2 separate regions of the Homo sapiens genome follow, and region 2 is linked to region 1. Evidence: fine-mapped expression QTL. A gene starts in region 1. The other region holds a variant in brackets. All regions are shown on one strand. Distances are between the middles of the regions.

Region 1 (16,022 bases):
CACTGCACTCCAGCCTGGGCGACAGAGCGAGACTCCGTCTCAAAAAAAAAAAAAAAAAAAAAAAAAAAAAAAAAAAAAATAATGAATGAAGCGGGATCCTTACCTAAACACTACTTATAAAAATTCAAAATGGATCAAAGGCCTAAATGTAAGAGCTAAAACTATAAAACTCTTAGAGGAAAACCAATACAGTTTGGCTGTATCCCCATTCAAATCTCAGCTTGAATTGTTATCTCCTAGAATTCCCACATGTTGTGGGAGGGACCCAGAGGGAGGTAACTGAATCATGGAGGCCAGTCTTTCCCGTGCTATTCTCGTGATAGTGATTAAGTTGCATGAGATCTGATGGGTTTATTAGGGGTTCCCACTTTTGCTTCTTGCTTATTTTTCTCTTGCCACTGATGTAAGAAGTGCCTTTCACCTCCCACCATGATTCTGAGGCCTCCCCAGCCATATGGAACTGTAAGTTCAGTTAAACCTCTTTTTCTTCCCAGTCTCGGGTATGTCTTTATCAGCAGTGTGAAAACCAACTGATACAGTAAATTGATACCAGTAGAGTTGGGCGCTGCTGAAAAGATACCCGAAAATGTGGAAGCGACTTTGGAACTGGATAACAGGCAGAGGATGCAACAGTTTGGAGGGCTCAGAAGAAGACAGGAAAATGTGGGAGTTTGGAACTTCCTAGAGACTTGAATGGCTTTGACCAAAAGCCTGATAACAATACGGACAATAAGGTCCAGGCTGAGGTGGTCTCAGATGGAGATGAGGAACTTGCTGGGAATTGGAGTAAAGGTGACTTTTGTTATGTTTTAGCAAAGAGACTGGGGCATTTCGCCCCTGCTCTAGAGATCTGTGGAAGTTTGAACTTGAGAAAGATGATTTAGGGTATCTGGCAGAAGAAACTTCTAAGCAGCAAAGCATTCAAGAGGTGAGTTGGGTACTGTTTAAGGCATTCAGTTTTATAAGGGAAGCAGAGCATAAAAGTTTGGAAAATTTGCAGCCTAGTCCTGTCCAAGAGAACCCTGATTAATACAAAAACATAGGGGAAAAGCTTCATGATATTGGATTTGGCATTAATTTCATGGATATGACACCAAAGGCACAGGCAACAAGAGAAAAAGACAACATAAACTTCATGAAAATTAAAACCTTTTGTACATCTAAGGACACCGTACAAAATGAAAAGGCAACCTACAGAATGGCTCTATCACCCAGGCTGGAATACAGTGGCGGGATCTCAGCTCACTGCAACCTCTGCCTCCCAGGTTCAAGCAATTCTCCTGCCTCAGCCTCCCAAGTAGCTGGGATTACAGGCGCCCCACCACCATGCTCGGCTTTTTTTTTTTTTTTTTTTTTGAGATGGAGTTTCACTCTTGTCACCAAGGCTGGAGTGCAACGGTACGATCTCGGCTCACTGCAACCTCCACCTCCCGGGTTCAAGTGATTCTCCTGCCTCAGTCTCCCAAGTAGCTGGGATTACAGGCGCCCACCACCAAGCCTGGCTAATTTTTGTATTTTTAGTAGAGACGGGGTTTCACCACGTTGGCCAGGCTGGTCTCAAACTGCTGACCTCAGCTGATCCACCCGCCTTCGCCTCCCAAAGTGCTAGGATTACAGGAATGAGCCATTGCGCCCAGCCTTGCACCTGGCTAATTTTTGTATTTTTTAGTAGAGACAGGGTTTTGCCATGTTGGCCAGGCTGGTCTCGAACTCCTGGCCTCAGGTGATTTGCCCACCTATAGACCTCCCAAAGTGGTGGGATTACAGGCGTGAGCCACTGTGCCTGGTCAGTACTCTTTTTTAAATATTTATTTTTAGGCAAGCTCTTGCTCCATCACCCAGGTTGGAGTGCAGTGACACTCATGGCTTACTGCAGCCTCAAATTCCCAGGCTCAAACAATCCTACCACCCCAGCCTCCCTAGTAGCTGGGTCTATAGGTGAGCACCACCACACCTGGCTAATTTTTCAAAAAATTTTTTGTAGAGATGGGTCTCACTATGTTGCCCAGGCTGGTCTCAAATTCTTGGCCTCAAGAGATCTTTCCGCATAGGTCATTTTTTTTGTTTTTGTTTTTAAGAGACGGGGTCTCATTATGTTGCCCAGGCTGGTGTCATACTCCTTGGATCAAGCAATTCTCTTGCCTTAGTCTCCCATGTAGCTGGGATTACAAGTGCATGCTCCTGTGCCTGGCTCAAAAAATCAAGTAGCTGGGATTATAGGTGCATGTTACTGTGCCTGGCTCAACAGATTTTTAATTTAAAAAAAGCTTCACTACAGCTTGATTACTAAAGACTAAAGACTAAAATTGGACCCCAGTATCATTTAAGCCATTCCTGCCAACAAAAAGCTCAATTTCCAAACACTTTAATACACATGGACTCTGGACCAAATCCCCCGCAACTGTACTGATGTGCTTCGAACTCACCTTCGCTTTGGTGCCCTAATGAAGAGCTCACAGAGAAGTCTGCCCTGTTCATCCTTATAGTCTCGGATGGTATTATAGAGTTCATGGCACACGGCAATCTACACATTAGCAAAGGAGAAAAAAATCACTAAAAAAGTGAACAGAAAGCCAGTGTAGACATAAGAATTATTTTCTACTCTTCAATAAAAGGCAAGTAGAGAAGAAAAATGATGACTCTCAATATTACCAAACATGCTAAAGTCTGAAATATGCTGACAATATGTCTCCTTTCAAACAACTGAGTTGACTAACTTTTTGGTATCTTTCATCAGATTTATGCTCCTGGTGATTTTGTCTTCTAAACTATATCAGTTCATCACTTTCTTGCTTAAAGTCATCCAATTGAAGGGTTTTCTTCTTTGAAACTAAATCAGTTTATCACTCTCTTGCTTAAAGCCATCTGACAGAAGGGTTTATCACTTCACAGAGAATAAAATCTAAACTCCAAACATTGCTTGTGTGGGCCCTACATACTCTGAATGGGTGGAGCTTGCCAGTTTCCTTCTCCTTCCTGACCATCCCCTGCTCTGTAACCAAGACACACAAAACTCATCCCTGACCCAACCCCTCTGCACTGGTTCTGTCTGGAACTCTCTTCCAGCGAATTCAGGCCAAAACAGCCCAAATCACCCAAAATTTTCTTCTTAGCACTTATTACTAGCTAAGGATACATTATTCTTTATTCGTTTACTTGTTTACATTCTACTTCCCCCGCCTGGAATCTAAGTTCCATGTGAAAAATGGGCTTGTTTCCACATGGCTATATCCCAACCATGAGAACAGTGCTTGTCACATGATAGTCACACAGTTATTTGCTGAATTAATATATGATGTAACATACTGAAATTATTCATAAGATCACACTATTACTCTAAGACTTAGCTGAATACATAATGTTCATAAAAGAAAAGACTATTAATCAAGAGAATCTTAAAAAAGTGGAGATGCCTTGCATCGTAACAATTTTACCATTAAAGGGAAGATAGGGGAATTGTGGGAAGAGCAGGCAGAAACCATGTAATCCAAGTTACTCACAGGATCTACAGTTGGAAGATTGGAAAGTCTCCTCCTTTTCCTGCTTGGGCCTGGTGTTGACACAGAATGGTGCCCATCATCAAAGTCCCCGCTGACACTGCTGGAAGGGGAGGTAGCTCTTCTTCTCTTGGAACCCATGGAATCCAACTTCTTCTATAAGAAATAATCAGCCATGTTCTTACATTTAAATAGACTCTGTCACCAAGTCTTCAGCTGGACACCTGCTACCAAACTCCTGGCTCACTTAGGAGGATATTTTAACGTGTTGTAGTTTAACTAGCTATAAGTTTTTTTTTTTTTTTAAGCCCTGGACTTCCTTGTTTTAGTCTTTCACTTACCAGAATGCTATACTTCCAATTTTGATGGGACAAATTCAACAAAAGCATATTCATTTGTATATCAGCAATCTTGAATGACTCAACTTCTGGCTCCAAATTTGGCCTAGAGTTTCCCAACCTATATGTAGCAGTACATTAGTGTGCTGAAGGTATTAAGCCTTCAGCCCATGAGGCAGTCAGGCAGGCCTGGGGTACAGAGGCCCCAAGGTATCCACCTCTGGAGTCAGCACCTCATCTGCTTCTCTATGTGCCTTACAATTATGATCATTTGCTAGGTGGGCCATCATGTGGAAAAGAGCAAGAAGCAGAGCCCAGGACAAATGAGTAGTGCAAAAAGGTAAGGGGACAGAGGACAATTAACCTTCTAGCACTTTAGATGTACTCTAAAATTAAAACCCTGAAAATGAATGTTCTCCATTCATTAAAACAGGATCCACAAGACATATCCCTGGAAAACACTTAATGAGACTTGCTATACCTAGACAGAGGTACAAACTATCCTTTGAAACTCTTCTGTTAATTCAAACTAATCACCTTTTAGTGATATGACATACTCTAACTATAACACGTACTCTATTTAACTATAACAATTTTAACTATAACTCTATTTACAACACAAGAAATGCAACCACTGAATGATCTGCTACAGATAGTATATACCCAAGAAAGTCCTGCAATGCTTATATTGCAATACAATCTAACAATACTATCAAATAGTATATTGTGATTTGAAAGGCCTTTTTCTTTCTTTCTTTCTTTCTTTTTTAGGTGGAGTCTCGCTCTGTCACCAGGCTGGAGTACAGTGGCACGATCTCTGCTCACTGCAACCTCCCTCCACCTCCCAGTTTCAAGCGATTCTCCTGCCTCAGCCTCCAGAGTATCTGGGACTAAGGCGTGTGCCATCACACCCAGCTAATTTTTGTATTTTTAGTAGAGACGGGGTTTCACCATGTTGGCTAGGATGGTCCCAATCTCTTGACCTCGTGATCCGCCCGTCAAAGGCCTTTTTCTAAAGCTAAAAGAAAAAAAAAGATCCCAGTTTCACTCATCAACACTGAAGGTATTGATCCTTCAGCCCCTGAGGTAGTCAGGCAGGCCTGGGGTTCAGAGGCCCCAAGGTATTCACTTCTTGAGTCAGCACCTCATCTGCTTTTCCATGTGCCTTACAATTATGAGGAACCTCATAGAACTAGAGTACCTCATAATTGTAAGGCACATGGAAACACTGAATTTCAGGACACTACGACACCAGCAGCTGAATGATTAGAACAGGAGAACACTGGTTGCCAGCAGTATGGAAAGAAAGGTTGGGGATCTCCAGGAAACAGAAAGAAGGAGCAAAAGAATCACATTTGAAAATCCTGGTGAGCAATTAAGGAAAAAGAGAAGTCTCAGATCTCTTTTTCCAAACTAAAGTCCACATGGTGTTTAAAACAAAATCTACCACGATGATGTTCCTTACTCTAGGCTTCGGTTTGTTATACAGTATTATTAGTTTGAAGTTGGCTAAAAGTAGTTAAAATCGTCAAAAGGCTTAGCCAAAACTTAGCCAAGTTTTGCTGATTTTTGTTCATTTTATAAAAAGCTGATCAACAGGACTCAATTCATTAAGATAAATTAAGGACCAATCCCTTTTAAACAATCTATGACAAAGACACAAGTGAATTTGATGAACATAAGGAGGGAATCTTTGTGGAAAGGATAACAAAAATTTAAGAAAGGTGGAAGGAAAAAGTCAAGGAAGGACAGAAAAGGGAAAGGGTGTAGATAATCAGTAATTTACCAGCTTTACCAGAGCACAACCAGCGCCTCGAAAAGCCAGTCTCCTCATTATGTCTGAAAGCCAAGTGAAGCCAGTGGGAGAAGGAAGGGCTTTAGAAGTGCTGATTCAGTGTTAGTATATTCAAAACTGAAAAAGAAGAACAAGGCAGAGAAGGGGGAAATAGAAAAGAAGGGTCAGAAGGAGTAAAAATGAGTACGAATAGATAGAAAACATTCAAATAGAACTGCTAAAGAAAGATAAAGAGAACTGGAGAAAACAGGCATATCAGTTCTCTTGTACCTATCAAACAAACTGCTGCAAAGGCTCAGGCACTAACAGTACCTGACAGTTCTTCCATTTTAAAACCAAATGCTTTCATATGTTTAAAGATGTCTCATTGAGGTTCCCCTTTACTCACATTAGGAATGACTGTCAATTCCAGGAATGAGGCATGCCTGCCCAACTGCCCCCTAGTCAATAAGAGCAGAGTTCAATCACAGAGCTGGAATGGAGAGTGAATACATGTGGGAGGCTCACATGTGACACCAAGTGTTGGCAAGCTGGAACAAACCAAGAATGGCTCATGTGAGCAAAAGGTCTGGAAAACACCCTCCCCCACAAAAAAAAAATTCAGAGAAAGAACATTTATTTCCAAAAGTCCTATCTGCATTGGAGACACCATATAAAAATTTGACAAGGTTAAAAAAAAAAAAAAAAGGGCCAACCATTTTGGCAGGAGTTCAAAATTACTTTTATAAATAATCCACTGAAAATCAAATGACAAAAAAATACATTATCAGCATGTGTATGTCGTTCGGATGACACAATATCCCAATATCCTTGAATCATTAATTTACTTTGGTAAGATAAGAAAAAGTTTCAACTTAAGGATAATTTTCAAGTATTTTCTTATCCATGGGACACATTTTAAAATGTATTTTGAAAGTCTGACAAGAAGGGCAATGTTATAAGGTGGGAGAAACAACAGGACCTTTGCTCCTAAGACCAGAATAGGAGTCCTAAGTCTTCCACCTCTGATTATCAGCTTGATGTTGTCTGATTAGTTGATGTAACCTCTCAGATCTGTTTCATCTCTAAAATAAGAACGTAATGCCGGGAGTGGTGGGTCATGCCTGTAATCCCAGCACTTTGGAAGGCCGAGGCCAGTGCATCACTTGGAGTTCGAGACCAGACTGGCCAACGTGGTGAAACCCTGTCTCTACTAAAGAAAAATACAAAAATTTAGCTGGGTGCGGTGGCTCATGTCTGTAATCCCAGCGCTTTGGGAGGCTAAGGCGGATGGATCACCTGAGGTCAGGAGATCAAGACCATCCTGGCTAACACGGTGAAACCCCGTCTCCACTAAAAATACAAAAAAAATTGGCTGGGCTTGGTGGCACGCACCTGTAATCCCAGCTACTTGGGAGACTGAGGCAGGAGAATCGCTTGAACCCGGGAGGCGGAGGTTGCAGTGAGCCGAGATGGCACCACTGCACTCCACCCTGGACGTCAGAGCAAGACTCTGTCTCAAAAAAATAATAAAAAAAAAAATTAGCTGGCTGAGGCAGTGCATGCCTGTAAACCCAGTTACTTGGGAGGCTGAAGCATGAGAATTGCTTGAACCCAGGAGGCAGAGGTTGCAGCAAGCCGAGATCATACCACTGCACTCCAGTCTGGGTGACAGAGCGAGACCGTCTCAAGAAAAAAAAAAAAACAACATAAAGTGAAATCACTTCTGCATGTTCCCCAGGCACAGGAACAGCATATTCATTTTTGTAGACCTGTCTTACAGGATAGTATTTGGTATAGGTTATGTGCTCAGTTTATCTTTTAATAAATGTATTAAAAGTGCACTTAGGGCCAGGCACAGTGGCTCATGCCTGTAATCCCAGCAATTTAGGAGGCTGAGGTGGGCAGATCACCTGAGGTCAGGAGTTCAAGACCAGCCTGGCCAACACGGTGAAACCCCGTCTCTATCAAAAATACAAAAAATTATCTAGGCAAGGTGGTGGCATGCACCTGTAATCCCAGGCACTCGAGAGGGTGAGGCACGAGAATTGCTTGAACCAGAGAGGCAGAGATTGCAGTGAGCTGGGATTGCGCCACTGCACTCCAGGCTGGGGGACAGAGTAAGACTGTCTCCAAAAAAAACAAAAAAAAAGTGCACTTGAGACCTTCAAAAAAAAAAGTTTATTTGTATAGTTTAAAAGTCCTCAGCCAGGCACAGGGGCTCATATCTGTAGTCCCAGCACTTGGAGAGGCTGAGGCAGGATGACCGCTTGAGGCAGAGAGTTCAAGACCAGACTGGATAACATAGATTGATCTTTTCTCTACAAAAATTAAAATTAGCTGGGTGTGGTGCTGCACATCAGTAATCCCAGCTACTTGGGATGCTGAGGTGAGAGGACTGCTTGAGCCTAGGAGCACAAGGCTTCAGTGAGCCATGATCACTTTACTGAACTCCAGCCTGGGCAACAAAGTCAGACCTTGTCTCAAAAAAAAAAAAAAAAAAAAAAAAAAAATGCCTGTAAGCATCCCTTCAGCAATTTTGTCTTTCCATGAAGAGGAAAGACAGATTCCAGAGTTCAATGCCAAGTTTTAAAATGGCCTTGATTACAGTTACAAGTTCAAAAGTCTAACAATCAATAATTTATAGTGGACAGTTAAGAATACTTAATAATGTGCAACTGGGAGAATATCGACTTACTATAGACAAACAGTGTATTTCGACCGTTTATGAACTTTAGCCCTCTCCTATATTTCTAGTAATATTTAGCAATACAATACATGTTTAAAACAAAATCTTGGAAAACAGGACTCAAAGGAAAAAAAACACCTATAAACCTACTTCCAAGAAAAAAACCACTCTTAACGTTGTCATTCGGTTTTTGGTATTTATGCCTTAGTTACCTATTATTTTTTACCAAAATGTTAACAAACCACATATATTATTCTACAGCCTGTGTTTTAGTGAAGGTTCTTCCAAGTCAACATTCTTCCTCATGATGTTTGATGACTTGATAGTAATCTATCATATAGATACACCACAATTTACTTATCTTGGGAATTTTGGTAGGATATTAACATTTGAGGTATTTTGTACATTCCCAAAGCCAAAGAAAGCGGTCAAGGCCCTTCCATTCATCCACACATAAACTCTTTATTGTTTTAATTTGAAACACCTCTTCAAAACATATTTTCCAATCTTCCATTTTGGAGCTCAAAATCAAATATGGGCGACCTGTAAGTAATAAAGCAAAAATTATGCTACTCTTTTATGTGCATGAGTCCAATTTGCACTTTTTGGGGAAAAGCACATAGCCAAATGGAGAAAAAAATAATACCTAAAATTATTTGTCAAGAATCCTGTGTTGGAAAGTAAGTTAATTAAAACAATTCACCCCAACATACGCTTCTATAATTATTGTAAGAATTTCTATATCCACTATACCGTGTACTTATTTTTCAGGGCTTTTTCTATATTTTTGCAACTCTTTCTTCCCCTTTAAATTAAAACTTATTATAATAACAAAACTGTGCTTCCCCAAACCAAGAAATATACACAGTTCCCAAAATCCCGGATTCTTTGTGGTGTTGAGAAGCTGAAATATCTGGCCTCTACTATAAATACAAGTCCCATTGATTAAAATACCCGGAAAAAATACGGAAAGAAAATCACTAAGAGTTTGTGTCGAACCGTCAAGAAACCACAACAAAAAAAAGAGGCCCTGAGCAACGGAGGAAATGAAGGACTTTCCCGACCTGTCACTGGTATTGGGGACTGAGGGAAACGTTGACAGCTTTGAAGCTGCCCCGCGACGAGCGGGAAAGAGGAGCGCGGGGAGTTTCCGACCCGTAGTGCGCCTTTGTCCCTGCCGGCAGGTGCGACAAGGCTACTGGGCCCATCCGGAGGCCAGCCGCCGCGCCCCGCCCAACCCCGCGCGCCCGGCCCGACCCGCGCGTCCCCACGGCCGGGGCGGGGCTTCCGCCGCGGCTCCCGCCCGCCCGGGCCCACACAAAGGCCCGGCAGCTGACCAAGGGGGAGCGGCCCCACCCGCCCTGGGCCCGGCCTTACCCAGCCGCTCCGCCGCCTGCAGCCCCGGCCGCGGTCACCGACCGCCGCGCCCCGCCCCGTGGCCGCCACGGCTGCTGCTATTGCTCCTCCGGCCGCGGCCGCTGCCGTCGCTTCGGCACCCGCCGCCCTCACCTCCCTTACCCCTCCCGGTGCCGCCGCAAAACCAGTCCCGCGGCCGCCAAGCGATCCCTGCTCCGCGCGACACTGCGTGCCCGCGCACGCAGAGAGGCGGTGACGCACTTTACGGCGGCAGCGTAAGTGCGTGACGCTCGTCAGTGGCTTCAGTTCACACGTGGCGCCAGCGGAGGCAGGTTGATGTGTTTGTGCTTCCTTCTACAGCCAATATGAAAAGGCCTAGTAAGTGGGGTCGGGAGGCGGGCGTGGAGGGACCCACGTCTGGAAGTTGCTGCAGCCACCACGACGCTCTTCTACGGCTACGGCTTTGTCTCTGCTGGTATGGGGGTGGGAGCCTACGCGTAGGCCTTGGCCCTATTTCCTGGTAGAACCGAGAGTTGGAAGTCCCTACGGCGATCATGTTAACCGCGCGGGCTCATTCTGCGGAACGAAGCCGGGCAGAGGGTGGGGAAGACTAGGCTAGATTTTCGTAAGGAAGCAGCGTCTGAGCCAGGTTTGAGGCCCAATATTTTCTTTCCGTGGCCACGTGCAGACTGGCCCAGGTGAGAGCTGAGAATCGCCTCCCAGACTCAGTGTTCCTCTCCTGCCTTATGATTCGTGCTGTTTGACACGAAGTGGTTGTCGTTTTGTGTCTCATACGCTGTTGTGTATGATCCCATTCTAATATTGTGAGGGTAAGTGCAGGGAATTTTGACTCCATTCTGGATCTACTGAATTTAATTCTCTGGGATTTGAAAGTAGCACGTATGTTTGCATTAGGCATTTCGCATTAGACTTAACGTTAGGTTTGGTAGCCAATAACACAAGAAAAGGATATAACTCCATAGTGCGTTAACCCAGAACTAATCATTTGGGTTAACAGATTTGTGATGTGTTTCTTTGTAGAGTTAAAGAAAGCAAGTAAACGCATGACCTGCCATAAGCGGTATAAAATCCAAAAAAAGGTAAGTGTAGTGCTTGAGAGAGCTGTACCAAACACATTGCTAAACTGATTTTGCCCTGTTCCTTTGCGGGAAAGTCTGGGTTAATGTGATTTGGTTTTGGGAAATGGCATTGGATAGACTGACCATGGGCACAAGCTCTTAGGCATCAGGAGTGCAGCTGTGAGAAAGTGCAGTGATTTGGTGATAAGTCTCTAAATTTGTTCAGCATGTTAATCTCTGCATAGAGAGCCTTCTAGTTACAATTTCTTGCTGTTTTATACTTACATATGCATTACTTTGTAAGATTCCAATTAAAGCTCCATTTTCCTAGGACATTTTATAGGCATAACTAAATTGCAGCCAGATTGGTTTCTCACTTGAATTCTGCTTAAGTATAAAGATATTTTTGTAAGCAGACAAAATCTCTTTATTTTAATAGGTTCGAGAACATCATCGAAAATTAAGAAAGGAGGCTAAAAAGCGGGGTCACAAGAAGCCTAGGAAAGACCCAGGAGTTCCAAACAGTGCTCCCTTTAAGGAGGCTCTTCTTAGGGAAGCTGAGCTAAGGAAACAGAGGGTAAGTTATGTTAGCCAGAATTTTCATTGAGTGGTGTAGTGTGTTATGTGTGATATTTTTCAGAGTAAGGTAACAACACTAGTCACTGGTTCACCTATTTCCCTTATGGCTCTGACAGCTTGAAGAACTAAAACAGCAGCAGAAACTTGACAGGCAGAAGGAACTAGAAAAGAAAAGAAAACTTGAAACTAATCCTGATATTAAGCCATCAAATGTGGAACCTATGGAAAAGGTATGATTAGGTCTCTTTATGAATGAGAGATCAGGGGTTTTGATTTTGGTTTTTTTGCTTGGGCCTGAGTGCAGTGGCACAATCACAACTCACTGCAACCTGGACCACCCAGGCTCAAGCAGTCTTACCACCTCAGTCTCCAAGTAGCTGGGACTACAGAAGCACACCATCACGCCTGGCTAATTTTTTTTAGCAGACACGGGCTTTCACTATATTGCCAAGGCTGGTCTCAAGTGATCCACCCAACTCAGCCTCCCGAAGTTTCTGGTATTACAGGTGTGGGCTGTTGTGCCTGGCTGAGAGATGAGTTCTGATGCAGAAATAAAAGCACATCCACAGGCTGCTGAGCTTCTTGGGAGGAAGACAACTGAGTTCAGACTCCATCTTACCTATTTAACAACTGCAAGGGCTGCTACTCAGCTGTGGAAAATGGAGTTAGAGGTTACAGTTGCTCTACTTCTAATTTTGTGTTATTTCCCCCTTTATCCTCTAGGAGTTTGGGCTTTGCAAAACTGAGAACAAAGCCAAGTCGGGCAAACAGAATTCAAAGAAGCTGTACTGCCAAGAACTTAAAAAGGTATCTTAGCCTAGGTCAGTGTCTGACAGTAGTAATGAGGTTTAAAAGACTCAAGTCATTTTTTTTTTAACCTTTTAAGATGAAGGGTGCATGTGCAGGTTTGTTATATGGGTAAACTTGCGTCATAGGGGTTTGCTGTACAGATTATTTCATCACCCAGGTATTAAGCCTAGTACGACATTAGTTATCTTTCCTGATCCTCTCCCTCCTCCCACCTTTTCACCAACAAATCATTTCGTGACTCGACTCTAGCTTATGCTGTTTAATGCCTTTCCTGCTATGTTTACCTGACGGAAATAGTTTCTTTGGTTCTAAATATTTGCACAAAACTGGTTCTGCCTGTAAGCATGATTTACAACATTAAAAAAAAACGTTGACATAGTGTTGAGATTGAGAAAGGTACATTGGAGTAAGCAGTGTCAGGCTAAAGGTCTCTAAAGTACTCTGTTGAAACCTAAGTGAAGGAGGACAACTTGGTGTAGTTGCTCTCCAGCACTCCCATCCCCAACATCCATTTTCCCAAGCTCACTCCCCCATGGATAGAACCTGACTGCCCCTCAGCAGCTTTTGGCAAGGCCAGAAGGACCTATCAAACTATATAATTCACTATGGGAGGATTCAGACAGGGATATTTGCATTTTTGAAATCCATCTTGATCAGAGACTGCTGAGCAAGCCTATGTTTTACTTTCCTGTGTGAGAAATGATGAGGGTCAACATTCTTCATACCAAAGTGAAGACATGAGATCCAACTCTGAGCTCACCCTGTTGCTAAATGGATAATGCCAGTACTCTCTTGTGGAAGGTATTACCAGAACAAGGGATGTAGTTCTGATCATTTTCTCCTTGATAATGTAGTTCTGGTCATTTTTTCCTTGATAGGTGATTGAAGCCTCCGATGTTGTCCTAGAGGTGTTGGATGCCAGAGATCCTCTTGGTTGCAGATGTCCTCAGGTAGAAGAGGCCATTGTCCAGAGTGGACAGAAAAAGCTGGTACTTATATTAAATAAATCAGGTGAGTAAAGAGGGTACCCTTTGTCTTCTGTGTACATGGGTGAGGTACGAGGAAACAGTCTGATAGTCACTGAAGACTGATTAGATCCAACTCTGATCTCAGCAAAGCCAGAGTACGTGCACTTTGCCAGAGACAGTGCTAGGCAGTGGGGAGCCAGGTGACTTTTACAACTGACTCAACTGGTTTCTACTATTCTTTTGCCATTCAGTATTTACCATCTTTTAAATAAAGAGTGTAAGCTGCTATACCCAGCTTATTGTGTAGTATATTTCATCTAGGAAGTGATGACAGTGTGACAAATTCCCCACACCTACACAATGTCGGGTATTAGTTCAAGAGTGAAATAAATTGGAACGTATGTGACAAAATATTTAAATGAAATGCATAATTATGCATCTGAGTTTGAGCAGCAGGAAAAAGAAAACCCAGAACAGAGAATTACAAAGCAGAAAATGGGAATGAGATCTAAAATTGTTGTTGGGGTTAAGAAACAATTGGCTGCTTGGGAGGCTGAAGTGGGCACATCACTTGAGGCCAGGAGTTCGAGAAAAGCCTGGCCAACACGGCGAAACCCCATCTCTACTAAAATACAAATATTAGCCGGGCATGATGATGGGCACTTGTAGTCCCAGCTACTCGGAAGGCTGAGGCAGGAGAATTGCTTGAACCCGGGAGGCGGAGGTTGCAGTGAGCCGATACTGTGCCACTGCACTCCAGCCTGGGCAACAACACTTCGTCTCAAAAATGAAGAAACAATTGGCTGCTAGCTAAAGGTAAATTCTGGAAACATAGCTCTAGGGTTAGTAGGGTTGTAATCCAGACGTTGAGTCTGTCCTGAAGTTTTCAAGTGAGCAATACAAGGGGAATTGAAATAGAGAAGTGCAGATGCTGAGCTCTGTTAAGATACGGGCAGTATGGTAGGGGAGCTTACCCTGCCCTGATTTTCTAGTTAAATCCTTTTGAAAGGACTGGGAAAATGTAAACCAGAGTAAAATCTATAGTTGCCAGATTTTGCAAATGCATCTCAACAAAATAGCCACATTGGAGCAAATGTCTTTTTCTTTTTTTCTTTTTGAGATGGAGGCTTGCTGTGTCACCCAGGCTGGAGTGCAGTGGCGCCATCTCAGCTCACTGCAAGCTCCACCTCCCGGGTTCACGCCGTTCTCCTGCCTCAGCCTCCCGAGTAGCTGGGACTACAGGTGCCCACCACCACGCCCAGCTAATTTTTTTGTATTTTTAGTAGAGACGGGGTTTTATCGTGTTAGCCAGGATGGTCTTGATCTCCTGAACTCGTGATCCGCCTGTCTCGGCCTCCCAAAGTGCTGGGATTACAGGCGTGAGCCACCGTGCCTGGCCGCAAATGTCTTATTTCTAATTGCTATCAGATCTGGTACCAAAGGAGAATTTGGAGAGCTGGCTAAATTATTTGAAGAAAGAATTGCCAACAGTGGTGTTCAGAGCCTCAACAAAACCAAAGGATAAAGGGAAGATAACCAAGGTATCCTTTATTAGTGGTAAGAAATGTGATTCTTTCAGATTTTGGTTGAAATATGATGAGTGTACAAAATCTTGATTTAAGTGAATGAAAAATTACAAGATCCAACTCTGATTTCAGCCAGAGATCATCTGAAAGGCAATGTAGTTATCTTAAGAGCTGGGCTCTGGAGCCTGATTGCTTGGGGTTTGTTGAAATTTATCAGGTAAGTTGCCAGAATAATTCAACTATTTGGAATTTTAGCGTGTGAAGGCAAAGAAGAATGCTGCTCCATTCAGAAGTGAAGTCTGCTTTGGGAAAGAGGGCCTTTGGAAACTTCTTGGAGGTTTTCAGGAAACTTGCAGCAAAGCCATTCGGGTTGGAGTAATTGGTGAGTTTCAGTTCATTACTTTTTACTTTTTAAGTGTTGAAATAGTTAAGAAGTTTAGCCAGCTCTCCAAGTGCCCAAGCAGCAGTGTATGGAGTTGTTGTCAAGTAAAAGGCTCACTCAAATACTAGCTTCTTGCTTATACCTTACTGAAAGCACATAACCACACACAATTTAAAGAAAAAAACTTACACAACTGCTGCCAGATTCAGGTTTTTTGTTGGGACTGATTACTGTAGGAAGCTGGTTTCTAAAAGTTCTTGGTTTGTTTGAATTTATAGTATTTTCCTGCCTTTGCATTACTTGTGCAAGAAATGAAGAAACTAAAATTGGTCTTAGTATTGAAGTGAAGACACTGAGATCCAACTCTGATCTTGCCCTAAACATCAGGGAAATGGAAAATTAGGCAGTGAAAATTTCATAAGTGCCAACATATAATGCTTTTTATATCTGGATTTCCCATTTATTTGTAGGTTTCCCAAATGTGGGGAAAAGCAGCATTATCAATAGCTTAAAACAAGAACAGATGTGTAATGTTGGTGTATCCATGGGGCTTACAAGGTAAATGGAGGTGTCCATAATTGTAATATTATAGTGACACACTATTTTATTTTGGTTATCTCAAGGAAGGTGATTTTTTTTTTTTTTTTTTTTGAGACAGTTTCACTCTTGTTCCCAGGCTGGAGGGCAATGGCGCAATCTCGGCTCACTGCAACCTCCACCTCTCAGGTTCAAGTGATTCTCCTGCCTCAGCCTCCAGAGTAGCTGGGATTACAGGCATGTGCCCCCACGCCCGGCTAATTTTGTATTTTTAATAGAGACGGGTTTCTCCATGTTGGTTAGGCTGGTCTCAAACTCCTGACTTCAGCTGATCTGCCCGCCTCGGCCTCCCAAAGTGCTGGGGTTACAGGCCAAGCCACCGCGCCCGGCCTATTTTTATTTTTTAAAGCTTTTGGTGAAAGCAGAGATTTAAGCCAGTGCTAGAACTGATTGGAGTGGGACAGCTGCCCACAATTTAGTTTGAAAG
Region 2 (16,022 bases), 140 kb before region 1:
TAAGACGGGGCCAAGGACCTGGGGAAGAAACGTGAGGTCCAAGGACAGGAGGGCTGGAAAGGTAACGGGGGTTGTGGTATGAACAGAAATCCTTCAGAGGAGCCCTGCAAGTGACTGGAAGATGTTGAAGGTGAAGGGTACTGGAGCTTCATCCCCATGGGTAATGGTGGTATCTGGGGAGAAGGCACAGGACAGGGTCAAGGAACCTGAGCCAGAGGCCAGCACTTTTGGTGACTGAAGGGGCATGATGGAGAGCAGGTGCCAAAGAAAGATGGTGGCAGACAAATGGCATGAGCCATGAAGGAAGAAGATTTTTTTTTTTTTTTTTTGAGACAGAGTCTTGGTCTGTCACCCAGGCTGGAGTGTGGTGGCACGATCTTGGCTCACTGCAGCCTCTGCCTCCTGGGTTCAAGCGACTCTCCTGCCTAAGCCTCCTGAGTAGCTGGGACTACAGGTGCCTGCCACCACACCCGGTTAATTTTTGTATTTTTAGTAGTGACGGGGTTTCACCATACTGGCCAGGCTGGTCTCAAACTCCTGACCTTGTGATCCGCCTGCCTCGGCCTCCCAAAGTGCTGGGATTACAGGCGTGAGCCACTGTGCCCGGCCTGGAAAGAAGATTCTTTACATGAAGGTGGCGAGTCAAAGGTCTGGCAAAGCAGCAGCTGGAACAAGGAAACTGATCTCCTCTCCCCACCTGAAGGTTTCTGGATATGGGAGAGGGAGCATCAGAGAGCCAAGAGGCAAGAAGTGCCTTTGAGGAGCCAGGTTTTAGTTAAGAAGGATGACTTCAGAGCACAGAATAGAAATTATGGGGGAGAAGGAAGTGAGGGACATCTTAAAACACTAAGAGATGTGCTAAGACATGATTCTATCTTTCAAGACACTGACTTTTACCCTATTTAAGTCTAGAACTCCATTATCATAGTCCTCATCTAACTCAAGTTTTGTTTTAAGTTTATTTTGGCATTGAGTTAAATATTAATGCCAAGATTCAGAAGTAGGTGACAGACCTAGACTATTGGTTAAATTATTCAGATTGTTTTAATTTTAAATATGTTTCTTAAACATCTGAGCAACTTTTTGTTTGATACAGATGATGTCTACCGTAGAAAAGCCTCAGAAAGACAGTATCAGAGAAGGCTGGAAGATGAATGAGACTGAACTTCAGCAGTCAATAAAGTCAATATGAATTTTTACTATTGGTTTCAGTGCCTTTTAAAATATACTTTTCAGATCTCTTGTTCTGACACAGCTTGTCCTTTATCAGCTGCACAATATTCCAATAACTGTTTTTGCAAAGAATTTTTATAGTTCTGTCTCTGCTTGAGTACTTCCCAAGTCACTGCTGGACAGCACTTGTGGGAAAATTATTTCCTCCTAAAACACTCACTCGATGAATCTAGTCCATGAAATATTTCTTAAACAATTCAAGGATCAATCAGGATGCTTTTCAGTGAAGCCCGAATTGTTTTCGGCAATCTTTGTTTTTAGGCAACTAATTATAACCTTATTTACTTTTTTGCAGAATTCAAATTAAATTATGGACACATTCTCTATTGCCAGATCATTTAAACCAGGATAATTATGCAGGTTGTATTTCTGCCAGCTACTAGACTATAAACTTTTTGCTAGGGTGGTGGAAATTCTTGATTGACTACGCATTTCTCATGCTAGTGTTCTTGTGAACAGAAATATGCTCCTCCCTTGCTTGGCTCCCCTAAACTGCAAGGGCTGGATCTTCATGAGGACTGTGGGCAACAGGTTTCACACTACTCTAGGATGAAGATGTTGCTGTTCGATTCAGCTGCTAGAAACAGTTGCTCCTTCCATGAGAAAGTGAACCTACACAGTATAAAGCATCCCAGACTTGAGCTAAATCAGAGGCTCAGTCTATTGAGTGATTTGGCAATCTGACCCAGTGTAAGTTTGGATCAGCCTGGTAGAAAAAGCAGATACCTTTCCATGCTTGCATAGCCACATCTAACATCGTTTCAAGCAAAAAAAAATCTACATACTAAAGACTAAGTTTCAGAATAGTTTCTAACTATTGCATGAGAATAAAGCTGATGCTTAAGGCCATAGGGTATCCTCAAGTTAATGATCTCTGCCACAAACATGTCTCCTAATTTTTTCTAGATTTTTCTTCTAATTTTAGTCCACTTATCTTAGAACCAATTCAGTAAAGAACCATTAACTAACTACTCCCATCTCCTTAAAGCACTACCTACACTACAGTGCAGCAAGCCCAGAGTCACAGCTGGGAGATGGCTTGAATGTGAAAGGCCAGTAATGACCTCTGCCATCAGGGAGAGGACGGTGGTTCATCGTATTCTCATGCCCAGTTGTGTCATCTAGGATTCCTGGTAAACCTAACCTGATAAACCATTTTTAGTGACTTGACTGCTGTATAAAAACTATAGTATGATTCTCAATTATATGGCCATACTCCATGTTTGCCCTAACCCACCTTGTTTTAGGAGTTTAGTATTTGATACATATAGAAAATACGTCATACCTTTTACAAAGAATAATAGTAAACACTAATAAAACCATTGGCTAACTTTTGTGTCTGCTGTGGGTTCATTCCCTGGCCCATCCCCCTGCTTCCACCCCACAGAGAACCATTAGACTGAATTTTGTGTTGGCCTTCTCTAGAGCTTTCCTCTCCATTTCTTTTTCTTCTTTCCATTAGAATGTTAATTTATTTAAGGACAACAGACTTTGAAAATGATGGCCAGGGTTGGTGGCTCAAGCCTGTAATCCAAGCACTTTGGGAGGCTCAGGCAGGAGGATTGCTTGAGGCAAGGAGTTCAAGGCCAGCCTGGGCAACATACACTCCGTCTCTATTAAAAGAAAAAAGAAGGCTGGGTGCAGTGGCTCACACCTGTACTTTCAGCACTTTGGGTGGCCGAGGCAGGTGGATCACCTGAAGTCAGGAGTTCGAGACCAGCCTGACCAACACGGAAAAAGCCCGTCTCTACTAAAAATATAAAATTAGCTGGGTGTATGGCTGGGCATGGTGGCTTACGCCTGTAATCCCAGCACTTTGGGAGGCTGAGGTGGGCAAATCACGAGGTCAGGAGATCGAGACTATCCTGGCTAATACGATGAAACCCCGTCTCTACTAAAAATACAAAAAATTAGCCAGGCGTGGTGGCGGGCACCTGTGGTCCCAGCTACTCGGGAGGCTGAGGCAGGAGAATGGCGTGAACCCGGGAGGCAGAGCTTGCAGAGAGCCGAGATCGCGCCACTGCACGCCAGCCTGGGCGACAAAGCGAGACTCCGTCTCAAAAAAAAAAAAAAAAAAAAAAAAATTAGCCGGGTGTGGTGGCAGGCACCTATAATCCCAGCTACTCAGGAGGCTGAAGCAGGAGAATCGCTTGAACCTGGGAGGCGGAGGTTGCGGTGAGCCGAGATCGCGCCATTGCACTCCAGCCTGGGCAACAAGAGTGAAACTCCGTCTCAAAAAAAAAAAAAAAAGATTGGACAACTTCTGACTTTTAGGCAGGTAGACTACCAAAGCAATTATTGTATTCAATGGAAGATAGGTTTTCAGAGCACATTAGTTTGGATGCTGTGAGTGAGAACTCATTTGTTAGGGTGCAAGCTTTTTTTGAGATGAGTTTCACTGTCACCCAGGCTGGAGTGCAGTGGCATGATTATAGTTCACTGCAGCCTTGAACTCTTGGGCTCAAGCGATCCTCCTGCCTCAGCCTCCCAGGTAGCTGGGACTAGCTAGCTACCATGCTTGGCTAATTTTTAAATTTTTTGTAGACACAGGGTCTTGCTGTGTTGACCAGGCTGGTCTCAAAATCCTGGGCTCAAGCAGTGCTCCCACCTCAGCCTCCCAAAGTGTTGGGATTACAGGCATGAGCTACTGTGCCCAGCTAAGGTATATAAGCTTTTAATTTTTCCTCAAAAGTATTTTTAACTCTCCTACTAGGAATGACTCTATCCTACTTATCAGACACTGAACTATTTAAGGGCGCCAGGAGTAGTGGCTCATGTCTATAATCCCAGCACTTTGGGAGGCTGAGGTAGGAGGATTACTTGAGCCCAGGAGTTCAAGACTAGCCTGGGCAACGTGGTGAAACCCTGTCTCTACAAAAAGTACAAAAAATTAGCCAGGCCTGGTGGTGTGCACCTGTAGTCCCAGCTATTTGGGAGGCTGAGGTGGGAGAATCACCTGAGCCAGATCAAGACTGCAGTAAGTATGATCCCAGCACTGCACTCTAACCTGGGCAATGGAGTGAGACCCTGTCTCCAAAAAAAAAAAAAAAAAAAGCCGTGAAAAGAATTGCAGTACCACCAACTGTAAACTACAGGGCATAAATTTTAATAAATTTCAAGAACTATACTTATTGCAGAATGCTGAAAACCTGATTAGCATTTATTACTAGAACTCTACCTCCACTGTGGTGTTGGGGAAAGAATATGGGCTTTGGAGTGTCACTTTATTATCTGAATTTATAGAGAAAGTACCTAATAATAGTACAACAGTATTACAGCCCCCCCCAAAAAAAGAAAGAAAAAAAGTAGTGAATAAATGAGTTATTTTTGTTCATCTAGCAGTTCTATTTTGGAAGTCTTACCTACATCCCTGATGTGATATTTAATCTCCATTTTGTGTGTGTGTTTAAATTTTTCACACTGAATTAACTCTCTTTAAAGAAATATACTCTTAGCTGGGCGCGGTGGCTCACGCCTGTAATCCTAGCACTTTGGGAGGCCGAGGCAGGCGGATCACGACATCAGGAGATCAAGACCATCCTGGCTAACACAGTGAAACCCCATCTCTACTAAAAACACAAAAAATTAGCCGGGCGTGGTGCTGGGCGCCTGTAGTCCCAGCTACTCAGGAGGCTAAGGCAGGAGAATGGCGTGAACGACAACAACAAAAATATATATATATACGCACACACACACTCTTGGACCCTGTTGTTTTCCAAAGTAATTTATCTCCTAGTAAAGCATGTTAGTGCTTAGTCTTCACACGAGTATTAAATCTGGAGTTTCTTGTCTCATTTATGTGCTATCTGCAAGATGTAAATACCATGAAATAGCCAAAACAGGGAAAAGGGACAGTCCATTAATTTGTTTAGTTCTGAACTTTCATTCAGGGACCTAACATACTTCCAGGCTAAAATGGAACAGAGTAGGCTGGGCGCAGTGGCTCACACCTGTAACCTTAGCACTTTGGGAGGCTGAGGCAGGTGGATCACTTGAGGCCAGGAGTTCAAAACCAGCCTAGCCAATATGGAGAAACCCTGTCTCTACTAAAAATTCAAAAATTAGCCAGGCATGGTGGCGCATGCTGCAGTGAGCCAAGGTTGCACCACTGCACTCCAGCCTGGGTGACAGAGTGAGGTTCCGTCTCAAAAGAAAAAAAAAAAAGGAACAGAATAATAGCAATATTTGTTTGCTCAGTGTTCAGATGGGATGTCTAGCTATACATCAATGATTGTTCAAAATATGCTCAGGGGCACAGATGCCGGTACTATCCTAAATTCAGGAGAACAGAACCACAGGGATTTGCAAAGTGATATTAGAGGAAAACAGTTGGTTGCTTTTACCAACACTTTCTATTAAAAGCATGGTCATGTTTTAAGAGTTTATAAAGATGTTAAAGACACCTGGGCCACCTGTTTCTTCTGGCCACAGACAAGCTATTTGAAGTGGGCTATACTGCTTACATGCTTTCCTCACTTTCCGCCCTCAGTAATTCTCCAATTTTAATTTCAACCTGCATTTCTGCCCATGCTGAGGACATGTAGGAATTCCTTGACTGCCAGCCTGAGGCGTGGCGTGGGGCACTTCAGTCTGCAGTCTGACTACATTTGGCTCTGTGTTAATGCAGCCCGAGCCCTGAACCAGAGGTCTGGACACTGACTTTCATCTCCATCTGTGGAGCTTTGTTCTCTTAAATTGGCAGTCACATACAACCTTGTCAGCATGAAATCAGGGCTTGCAGGAGTTAAATCTGCTTGAAACATCTGACACCACTTTAACAGAACAACCAAACCTGGTTAATCCAAATCACTTTGCAAACTCTGTATTTATTTGGATTAAAAAGCTTTAGATGAACAACAAAAAAAAGATACATACATGTTATAAGACTAGTTACCACGTAAACCTCAGATGATATGATACAGAAATTAGAATAAACCAAGTTTTAATCAGGTATGAAAACATTCAAGCTCAAAATCATCAACACCAATTTGGGGATTTTACAGAAATAGGTGCCCCTCTCAATTCTTCCTCATAGGAAGGGGAGAGTGGCTTAAAAAAAAAACAACAACCAAAACAGTTAAAGGCCTTTTAAATCAGTTGGCTGACAAACATACTGTTTTAAACCTACAGGTTCCCCTCAGTCCCCCCGTTTGCAATATAAACAATTCTTCTCCACAGGAACTTACATTTTGAAAACATTTAGGCCATTATACTTTCTAAGCCACATTACTACAGTTCCTAAAACTTATGAAAAAAAGGTGTATAGTTTACTTGTACTTTCTTGAGTCAATTTTTTTTTCTTTTTTGAAGATGGCTGACCTCAAATCTTATATCCTAAATATTAACGATATCCCCCAAGTTAATATACAGAAAAACATGATTCTAAAATAAATACACAGGCTTTTTAAAAAAAACTTAATTAGGGCCTGTCTAGTGATGCCCTGGGCCGGTGCTGCACTGCTTTAGGGAAGCCCCTGGCTGGATCTATGTTTCCTATAGCACCTCTAGGCACTGGGAAGGAGCCTGGAGGAGAGCTCTGGCTTCTAATGACCCACGTGGCCCCCAGTGAAAAATTTTTTTAGAGGCTCCCCAAAGAAGTCTCATCCAGACCTTAAGGGAAATAAAATGAATGCATGAAATAAATAAATAATTTAACCACAACTAAATTTCATGTTCTTTGGTGTAATTCAAGGATGTCTAGAAACAAAATAATCTGATTGCATTATACAGTCCATGATGATTCAATTGCCCAAATAGCCAGGAATTGAAGATTTATCTGACTCACTTTAACAATAAGGTACTGACACACTACTGCAATACATTTTTTTAAATTCAATATTATTTAAAATACTTGATGCAAATTCAAATCCAGTGGTTGACTAAAGGCAATTAAGTTAAAGGGCCTCCCATATTTAAAGTATCTAGATACAAGAGACTTTTTTCCATTCTACACTCTTTTGCCCTCATGATTTAATAAGTACAGTAATTAAACATCTGGGTACTGATTCATAGCAGATTAAAAGGAAAAAAGCATCCTCTGAGATTAACTCTCTCAGATTATAAACAGCAGTGGAAGCTCTACCACAATGGCAATCACCCAGTTACTATAAAGCAGGTTTCAAAAACATGCCGCCAAGTGAAACAATGTTCCTACTGTCTGCCATCCTATGCTGCCTTCAAATGTTTATTGTAGGGTCATATAAGAAAGACAGGGTCACCAAACCCAAGTGTTTGGGATCTGTAATGGTCTTTCTAGTAAGCGTTTTATTAAATTATGATTCCCTTCTCCTGTAATTCAAAAGCACAAGCTAAATTTAAAAAATATTTTAGAAAGTATTAAATTTCTGGTTGAGAATTATAACAACATTGAAACTTAAAAGAAAAAATACATCTGATAATAAGGAAATAAGGAATACTAAAACATACTTGTATATGAAGGCAATCAATCTACTTGTTCACAATTATGCTTCTTATACAGCTCATATCTAGTTCCATACTCTCTTACCCATGTTAGGTTAGGTGTTATGTTTAAAAATAAATCACCTCCATGCATACCTTAATGCTTTCTTCAAGACGAACTTCAATGTTTTTCAATGTAACAGGTTTAAAATTTTAAATCATCTGAAATTTATAGGCATAAATTGTGAATTCATTATAAATAGATCAAAATATCCTTAAACGTACCTGCCTAGATTAAACATACCTCAGGGTTGTGCACGTGTTCTGCAAAAATCACTGACACCATAGTCTAACTCACAGATGTCTAACTCAGCACAATTGAAAAAGTGCTTTTTCCCCTCCTGGTGTCCAGGAGGTACATTAGCTGCAGACAGATGCACAGCACTGATTACATATTTC[T/C]GTAGTGAGCCTCTGAGTTAATAGAGCAAATGTGCTGTGTCTATTAAACATCTAAAACCTAAATAACCACCTTTCAAAGAAAGCACTTCATCTGTAAGAAACAGCTTTTGCAGAAAGTGGCTTAAGATATTCAGGCACATGAAACAAACACAAGTATACTCCCCTCTCTAAGATGTAAACTAGGACAAACTTCACATTTCATTATCAATTTAAACTAATCTGTAAACTCTTGTGTGTGTGTGTTTTTTTTCATTTTGTTCTTTTATATATATATATAAAAAAACCCAAAACCAAGAAAACAAAAACCCCAAGCCAAGACAAAAACCTCTAATGGTTTCAGTTCCATGGCAACAAGTAAAAAGATAAAACTCCAAGTCTACATATACAACCAATTATGAAACTGGTTTTAAACGAAGGAAACATATGCAAAAAAATCTTTGTGTATTTGATAAAGTCAACTTAATATAACAAACAAATTGAAATAGCTTATTAAAAGTGTCCGTATATAAAAATGGCCTTGTGATGTACAGTAAAATGCAATAAAAATTATCCTCCTTTGTTCCTTCCCCCCACCCCCAGTAACTAAAATGGCTACTGATCCACAACTCTTTATGCTTCTATATAAAAGAAACGTAATGATGTGATTAAACATTTTCTAGGTTGTATGCTTGGCGAATGTTGAGGGTGTCCCGGAGCATCAAATCTCGAAGGCGCCAGAGGGCATCTGCCATGGTGGTGTGGGCCCCTTTGCTTTTCAGCCAGTGAGAGGGTAGGCGGCTCTCCTGTTCTTTCGACAAATGGACGTCGCGTCTTCGAGCTGAAAATTAAAGTACAGAGAGACAGAAATTAGAATTTTAAGTTGGCAAAATTTCCCTCAGTTCTAAGGTCTGACGAACTTATTAAAACACAAAACATTGAATATTTATTAAATATTATGAATTTTAACTGCAGAATATTTCCAGGCACATTTCTTATATCATTTTACTAGGCACTAAAAGATTTGATCATAAATTTTTTTTTTTTTTTGACATCGAGTCTCGCTCTGTCGCCCTCGCTGGAGTGCAGTGGCGCGATCTCAGCTCACTGCAACCTCTACCTCCTGGGTTCAAGCGATTCTCCTGCCTCAGGCTCCAGAGTAGCTGGGATTACAGGAATCTGCCACCAAGCCTGGCTGATTTTTCTATTTTTAGTAGAGACAGGTTTCACCATGTTGGCCAGGCTGGTCTTGAACTCCTGACCTCAGGTGATCTGCCTACCTTGGCCTCCCAAAGTGCTGGGATTACAGGTGTGAGCCACTGCACCCGGCCTGATCATTATTTTTTTGTAGGCATCCCTGATATTTAATAATTACTTCAATGTTAACAAAAATTCCTAAAAAGGTAAACATGTGAAGAAAGGGAAAATATACCTTCTACTCTAAAGAAATGAAATGAGATGACCAAAGTTGGTTTAGAAATCAAGAACAAGTAGAAACTTCCAAACTTCTCTCCAGAAACTACACAAGTACTTTAGTACATACTGAAAATACATAAGTATGTTGAACTAAATGAATAGCCTAATCGGTTTCTAATATTTTTTTCCTTTTGTTAAACTGAGGTAAAATAGTTTTTTTTTTTTTTTTAGACAGAGTCTTATTCTGTCACCCAGGCTGGAGTGCAGTGGTGCGATCTTGGCTCACTGCAACCTCCACCTCCGGGTTCAAATGATTCTCGTGCCTCAGCCTCCCAAGTAGCTGGGATTACAGACACCAGACACCACGCCCAGCTAATTTTTGTATTTTTAGTAGAGATGGGATTTCACCATGTTGGCCAGGATGGTCTTGATCTCCTGACCTCAAGTGATCTGCCCGCTTCAGCCTCCCAAAGTGCTGGGATTACAGGCGTGAGCCACCGCTCCTGGCCCTCATCTGGCTAATTTTTAATTTTTTTGTAGAGACGGGGTTTTGCCATGTTGTCCAGGCTGGTCTCAAACTCCTGAACTCAATCGATCTGTCCACTTCAGCCTCCCAAAGTGGGAGCCACCGTGCCTGGCCAATAATTTTTAATTTACCCAATGCATCTATACTAATGTCCAAATGCCTGAAAAACAAAACAAAACAAAACAAAACAACAAACAAAAAACAATGTACTTAAAAAGATGGCAGTGATGTTTATGAGAAAACTAGGCTTTGAAATTTGGCAAAAAAAACCACAACAACACTTTTAGGCAGGGCGCTGTGACTCATGCCTATAATCCCAGCTCTTTGGGAGGCTGAGGTGAATAGATCACCTGAGGTCAGGAGTTCGAGACCAGCCTGGCCAAAACGGCGAAACCCCATCTCTACTAAAGATAAAAAAATTAGCTGGGCGTGGTGCTGAGCACCTGTAATTCCAGCTGCTCAGGAGGCTAAGACACAAGAATCGCTTGAACCTGGGGGTCGGAGGTTGCAGTAAGTCGAGATTGTACCACTGCACTCCAGCCTGGGCGACAGAGTGAGACTGTCTCAAAAAAAAAAAAACAACCCAAAAACCATTTTCAGGCCAGGCACAGTGGCTCACGCCTGTAATCCCAGCACTTTGAGAGGCCGAGGCAGGTGGATCACTTGAGGTCAAGAGTTTGAGACCAGCCTGGCTGATATGGTGAAACCCCATCTCTACTAAAAATATAAACATTAGCCAGGTGTGGTGGCATGTGCCTGTAATCCCAGCTACTGGGGAGGCTGAGGCAGAAGAATCAGTTGAACCTGGAAGGCGGAGACTGCAGTGAGCCAAGATCGCGCCACTGCACTCCAGCCTAGGCAACAGAGTGAGACCCTGTCTCAAAAACAAAACAAAACAAAACAAACCATTTTCAGTGTGTTACGTAAACATGCAAAGAAACTCCAAACCATTTATGAAATATATAATTTATTTTAATTGTATAAGAAAAAGGGGTGTTTATTGTATGATATACTATGCTAACAGCAGTAAGACAGCTTTGAGGAAGCATGTATTTCACAAAGGCTTATTTAGAAGGAATCTTACCTGCCAGTGTCTGATCCCACTTGCTAATGCTGTTGGACTCCGCACTGAGTCCTTCAATGTATTTCAGGTAGGCCTCTGAGTGAAGAAGCCGCTGGGTCTTTGGTGGGGGAGCTACAAACATGGGTGTTGTTGGCTGCTGTATGACAGGGGGTCCAGCTGGATGTGGGCCGGGATATGGAGGTGGTGCCTGCTGCCCTGGAGGCCCCAAAACTCCCACCTGAAAGAGCACAGGACCACATGGTGAGGCAAAAAGAGACTCTGCACATGTTCTGAGAAGGATAACTCGAATTCTGTCAAGTCCTAGAAAATCAAACTGGGAGGCTCACCTGTTGTCCATATGGACTTCCACCTGGTGCTGGAGTCCCTACCATAGGGGCCACTCCTTGGTTCATCACACCTATAATTCAGAATGCAATGGCACAGTTAGAGGCTCTGGGTTGAAATGACTGAAAAACTACTGTCTGATAAGAAATGATGCCATTCATAATTCAAACCTATGTACCTCTGCCCTTGAATCTTTGTGGCTAGGAATCTTAAGCACCCCAATAGGATTTGAATAGAAAGTTGTTTTGTTTCTAGGTACTTAAAGTATAATACTAGAACAATCTGTCAGATGTACATCAATTATGGCTTAGAAATGATTTGAACCTTGCATAAAATTCTAGTATTTCTCTAGGTAAGCTATTGTCAGAATATACCTCTACATTCAAGGTGTTTTTCTTCTGACAACACATTCTCCTGCAACTGAAGCCTGTATTTAATTTAAGCAGGAATGGCACTGGAATCAGGCTCAGCAGTAAGCAATGTGCTAGGACAGCAGGGACACAAGGGAAGAGGCTGTGGAAGTGCATAGTTAAATGAGCTTTGTGAAGGCTGAAGGCACAGCCTTGCTATCCCCTCCCAGACCATCAGCAGCTGGTTCTAACTGGAGTCACTAGTGCTGGCAGGGAGAGAACACTTCCATCTGATAGAGTAGCACTCTGAAAAGGAATCATCTGAAGTGAAGTAACCTTGTTGCTATTGCTTTATATGCAAAATGACAAAGGAACAGAGAGACTTCATGGCCCTACTAGATTTGTACTATGTCCCTGATAATAATTTTGTAAGCTTCCCTCAGTGAATGCTCACGAGCAATTGTTGTCTCACAGGCACAGCTGATAATAATGAGATGTCCTAAATTTAGTGTCAGAGGCTCTTTTGATTTCAGGGTGCATATTTGCTATTCTGATAAAATACAGAAATAGGCAAGGGACCCAGTTCATTAAAATCAAATAAACCTAAAACTGTGGTGAACTGTTCTTGAAAACTTAAACAAATCCTGCTGGCTGTGTAGAAGAATCGAGAGGAGGTATAACTTCATAGTGTATAGTCCCTTCGGATTAAAAATCGTAATATTTTGTCCAGGCAGAAGCAGCTCCTCATTCTAAAGTTCAGAACTGTTTCATGAATTTGCATGTCATCCTTGTGCCATGCTCAACTCCATATTGTTCCAATTTTAGTGTATGTGCTGCTGAAGCGAGCACTAAGGTTCAGAATTGTTAAATGCCACTTCCAGGAAGCATAAGAGAGCCTCTTATTTGTTAGAAAATAACAAGTAAAAAAGCTTCTGTTTAAAAAGCAGGGAGTTTTATATTCCAAGTACCCAGAAGTCCACCCGGATCACCAAAGTAGGATCCTGATGATTATTCGTGAATGAATGAAGAGGTTGTGGTGGGTAAGCTGGTGCCCCAGCAATATATTATTAACCTCTGTGCCCATCACCTCCCTGTGCCCTGGGACACTCACCCACCTTAGATTCCAGAACACGGTGTGGCTCCCTAAACTGTGTAAATCATTGCTTTGCAGGGCAGCACAAATCAGCAAACTCTTCTGCTTCCTCTATTGACAAATGCCATACTTGGGCAGCCGGTGAGAATCTGAGCTGAGTCACCAAAAGAGCTCAATGAATCCCCTACTCCTCTAAGCCTGCTCAGACATGTGCATTTGTAGGCACTAAGAGGGGGTCTTCCCTGACTCCTGGCTTCTTTTTTAATTAAATAAAATAGATATGGGGTTTCACCATGTTGCCCACTGGTCTTGAACTGCTGAGCTCAAAGCAATCCTCCCACCTCAGCCTCACAAAGTGCTGGGATTACAGGATTGAGTCACTGTGTCCGGCCCTGTCTCCTCAATTCTAAGCAGGTGTGTTGGGCTTCCCTCCAGTTGAATTTAGGATTTCAGGAAGGTGGAAAGGAAGACAGCTATGTCCCAACACCCACCAAAAGACATCTGCAACCTAGAGGGTACTGGCATTAGACATGGATCCCACTAAGTGCACCTAGAAGGTGTAAACTCCAGCCTGGTCTTATTGGCTCAGTGATACCCTGTATCAAGGTGAGAGGGCAAAAAATTAAGGCCAAGTCTACCTGCCACATGGGAACATTTACCTTATGACTGACTCCTGCTGCAACAGCAATTCACACAGTCCACTGTTTTCATATGAAGCACCTAACCCTACAAACACTTCCTCCTCTGGCAATACCTGGAGCAAATGCTTCTGTGGAATTATGGCCATATTCTAAGCAACTCTCACAAAGAGTGTGGCTGGAGGCTCCAGGCCAGGCCACCAAGTTTGCTCACTCTGCACACTGCTGGGTGCACCCTCCAAAGCATCATTTGGTACCCTGCAAAACCCTATCACTGGTAGGTCCAACACTGGTACAAGCAAATTTAACAAGTTTCCAACCACATTTTACCATTTGGGTTGGGCCCTTAGCTGATGTTGTAGGTAATGGACCAAATGCTTTCCGAGTCTTCCAAAGGTCACATTCCCTCCATCCAGATTACAGCTAAGAGTTCTTTTGCATATGATGGCAATTAATATGGGAACATGTGATTTTCCTTTCATTTAGGTTTTCTTTAAAATAATCTTTCAACTTGCTAATTCACATTTTAAAGTGAAAATGAATGTCGCTATTTCTGGAATCCATTTATATATTTCTATATAAAAGAACTTCTAAGCTTCTGTTGACAGACAAACCAGTATCTACAGCTAGGAGGGTAGGCTAGGCTGTTCTTTAATGTCAGGCTTTTTTTTTTTTTTTTTTGAGACAGGATCTCATTCTGTCGCTCAGGCTGGAGTGCAGTGGTGCGATCACCACTCACTGCAGCCTCAGTCTCCCCAGGCTCAGGTAATTCTCCCACCTCAGCCTCCTGAGTAGCTGGGACTACAGGCACATGCCACCACACCTGGCTAATTTTTCCTTTTTTTTTTTTTTTTTTGACACGGAGTCTTGCTGTCGCCCAGGCTGGAGTGTAGTGGTGCAATCTCGGCTCACTGCAACCTCTGCCTCCCAGGTTCAAGTGATTCTTCTGCCTCAGCCTCTCGAGTAGCTGGGACTACAGGTGCCCGCCACCACGCCCAGCTAATTTTTGTATTTTTAGTAAAGACGGTGTTTCACCATATTGGCCAGGCTGGTCTCGAACTCCTGACCTCAAGTGATCCGCCCACCTCGGCCTCCCAAAGTGCTGGGATTACAGGCATGAGCCATCGTGCCCGGCCTAACACCTGGCTAATTTTTATAGAGATGGGGTCTCACCAGGTTGCCCAGGCTGGTCTTGAACTCCTGGGCTCAAGTGATCCACCTTCCTCATTCTCTGAAAGTGCTGGGATTACAGGCATGAGCCATTACACCTGGCATGTCATGCTTCTTAGGGAACTCACATACAGAACACTAATTCAGTGAAAATGCATTCCCTCCCTGCTTTTTGTTCTAAGACAGACTGAGTGAAAGATTTCTGAAGAGTTCTACCTTAGCAGCTCTGCAATCCCCTTAGAAAGGCTGCTTGAGGAGAAGTAGGAGATGGAACAGATACTCTATACCCTGTGAGATAAGAATTGCACCAGAGGGAGAAATGCAACTCAGGGGCAAAAAATGCTTTTACATGTTACTCTGAACTAGCAATTTGGGAAACTTCATTCACTGATAAGAGGACACAGCCTTCTAGGCTGTCTGGCTTTTCAAGGACATGTCAAATTAGTTGAGTGATTATCGATAGAGTATGCCTCTTGTCCCTTGGTTTGCTGAGTCTGGCCTCTGCCATGTGTGCTGTGCTGCTGCCAGCAGCCAGGTGCACAAGGGCACAAGTGCTGGGCCACCTGCTGAATGCACAAGACATGCCCTGCTGCTGACAACCTTTGGATTCTCAGGGAGGGAAGGCCTGGCCACAATGGGCCACGGGTGCCTCCTGGAACAACTGGTTGAAAGCGGAAAAAGAGAATATGAAGATGAGATTAATGAGTGAATGAGGATGAAGTTCTTACCCGGTGGTGGGATGCCCGGGAGGCCAGGCACACCTGGCGGAAGATGGTGGGGTGGAGGCCCCCCAGGGTGAAGTGGCTGCATGCTGCCCATGCTAACAAGGCCATCAACTGGGCCCTGCAAAGGTGGAAGGCCTGGCGGATAGCCACCCATCATGCCTTGAAGGACACAACAAATTTCAGACATGCATCATTAACATGCAACATGAGCTAAGTAATAACAACCAACCCCCACATGCACTACCAATGAATAAAGCACCCTTAGTACTGCATGATATAACAGCAATTAGTGCAATTATTTTGCTGCAATAATGAACAAAATAAAAAGTTACAAATATGAGACCCAACATTTTGGGATGAATTAGTACTTAGTACACTATTATTTGTAGTTATTTTCCCTGGGGTAAATATGCTGCATGTTTTCAGTTAAATAATAGTAAAGAGTTCTAGTAACAGCCTTCCCAAGGAAATAATTATTGCAAGCTGTTCAAACAGAGTGACCAGTTCTGCTGACTGCAATTCTAACTGAATAGTATAAACCCCATCATTCCACTCTGCCCACACTCATATGCCTATCATGGGTACACATGAGGGGAAATAGGAAGGGAGGGAAATGAGCGCATAGTCCT

Evidence for each region. PIP is the estimated chance that this variant, and not a neighbour inherited with it, causes the effect.
Region 2: its variant is fine-mapped to the expression of PBRM1 in whole blood (INTERVAL, PIP above 0.99).

Annotation. Positions count from the first base shown.
Region 1 is chr3:52,676,074-52,692,095 of GRCh38, forward strand. PBRM1 (polybromo 1) reads right to left here and starts at 9,840. Exons shown (of 32, transcript NM_001405607.1): 1 at 9,676-9,840; 2 at 3,501-3,653; 3 at 2,427-2,524. The coding sequence starts at 3,638. GNL3 (G protein nucleolar 3) reads left to right here and starts at 9,959. Exons shown (of 15, transcript NM_014366.5): 1 at 9,959-10,032; 2 at 10,696-10,754; 3 at 11,173-11,310; 4 at 11,429-11,542; 5 at 12,036-12,119; 6 at 13,001-13,133; 7 at 14,519-14,631; 8 at 14,872-14,998; 9 at 15,469-15,556. The coding sequence starts at 10,020. SNORD136 (small nucleolar RNA, C/D box 136) reads left to right here and starts at 12,814; the gene lies at 12,814-12,960. It overlaps SNORD19 (small nucleolar RNA, C/D box 19), which reads left to right and starts at 13,167; the gene lies at 13,167-13,242. It also overlaps SNORD19B and SNORD19C. RefSeq lists silencers at 9,427-9,576, 9,647-9,796 and enhancers at 9,434-10,122, 10,117-10,186.
Region 2 is chr3:52,539,328-52,555,349 of GRCh38, forward strand. PBRM1 (polybromo 1) reads right to left here. Exons shown (of 32, transcript NM_001405607.1): 29 at 15,397-15,552; 30 at 11,420-11,490; 31 at 11,094-11,310; 32 at 6,040-8,908. The coding sequence ends at 8,736. It overlaps UQCC5 (ubiquinol-cytochrome c reductase complex assembly factor 5), which reads left to right. Exons shown (of 2, transcript NM_001124767.2): 2 at 1,097-2,563. The coding sequence ends at 1,158. It also overlaps the pseudogene RNU6-856P. Among named protein-coding and RNA genes, the nearest start is that of UQCC5, 11 kb to the left of the region's middle. The variant T/C (reference allele first, on the strand shown) is at 8,092.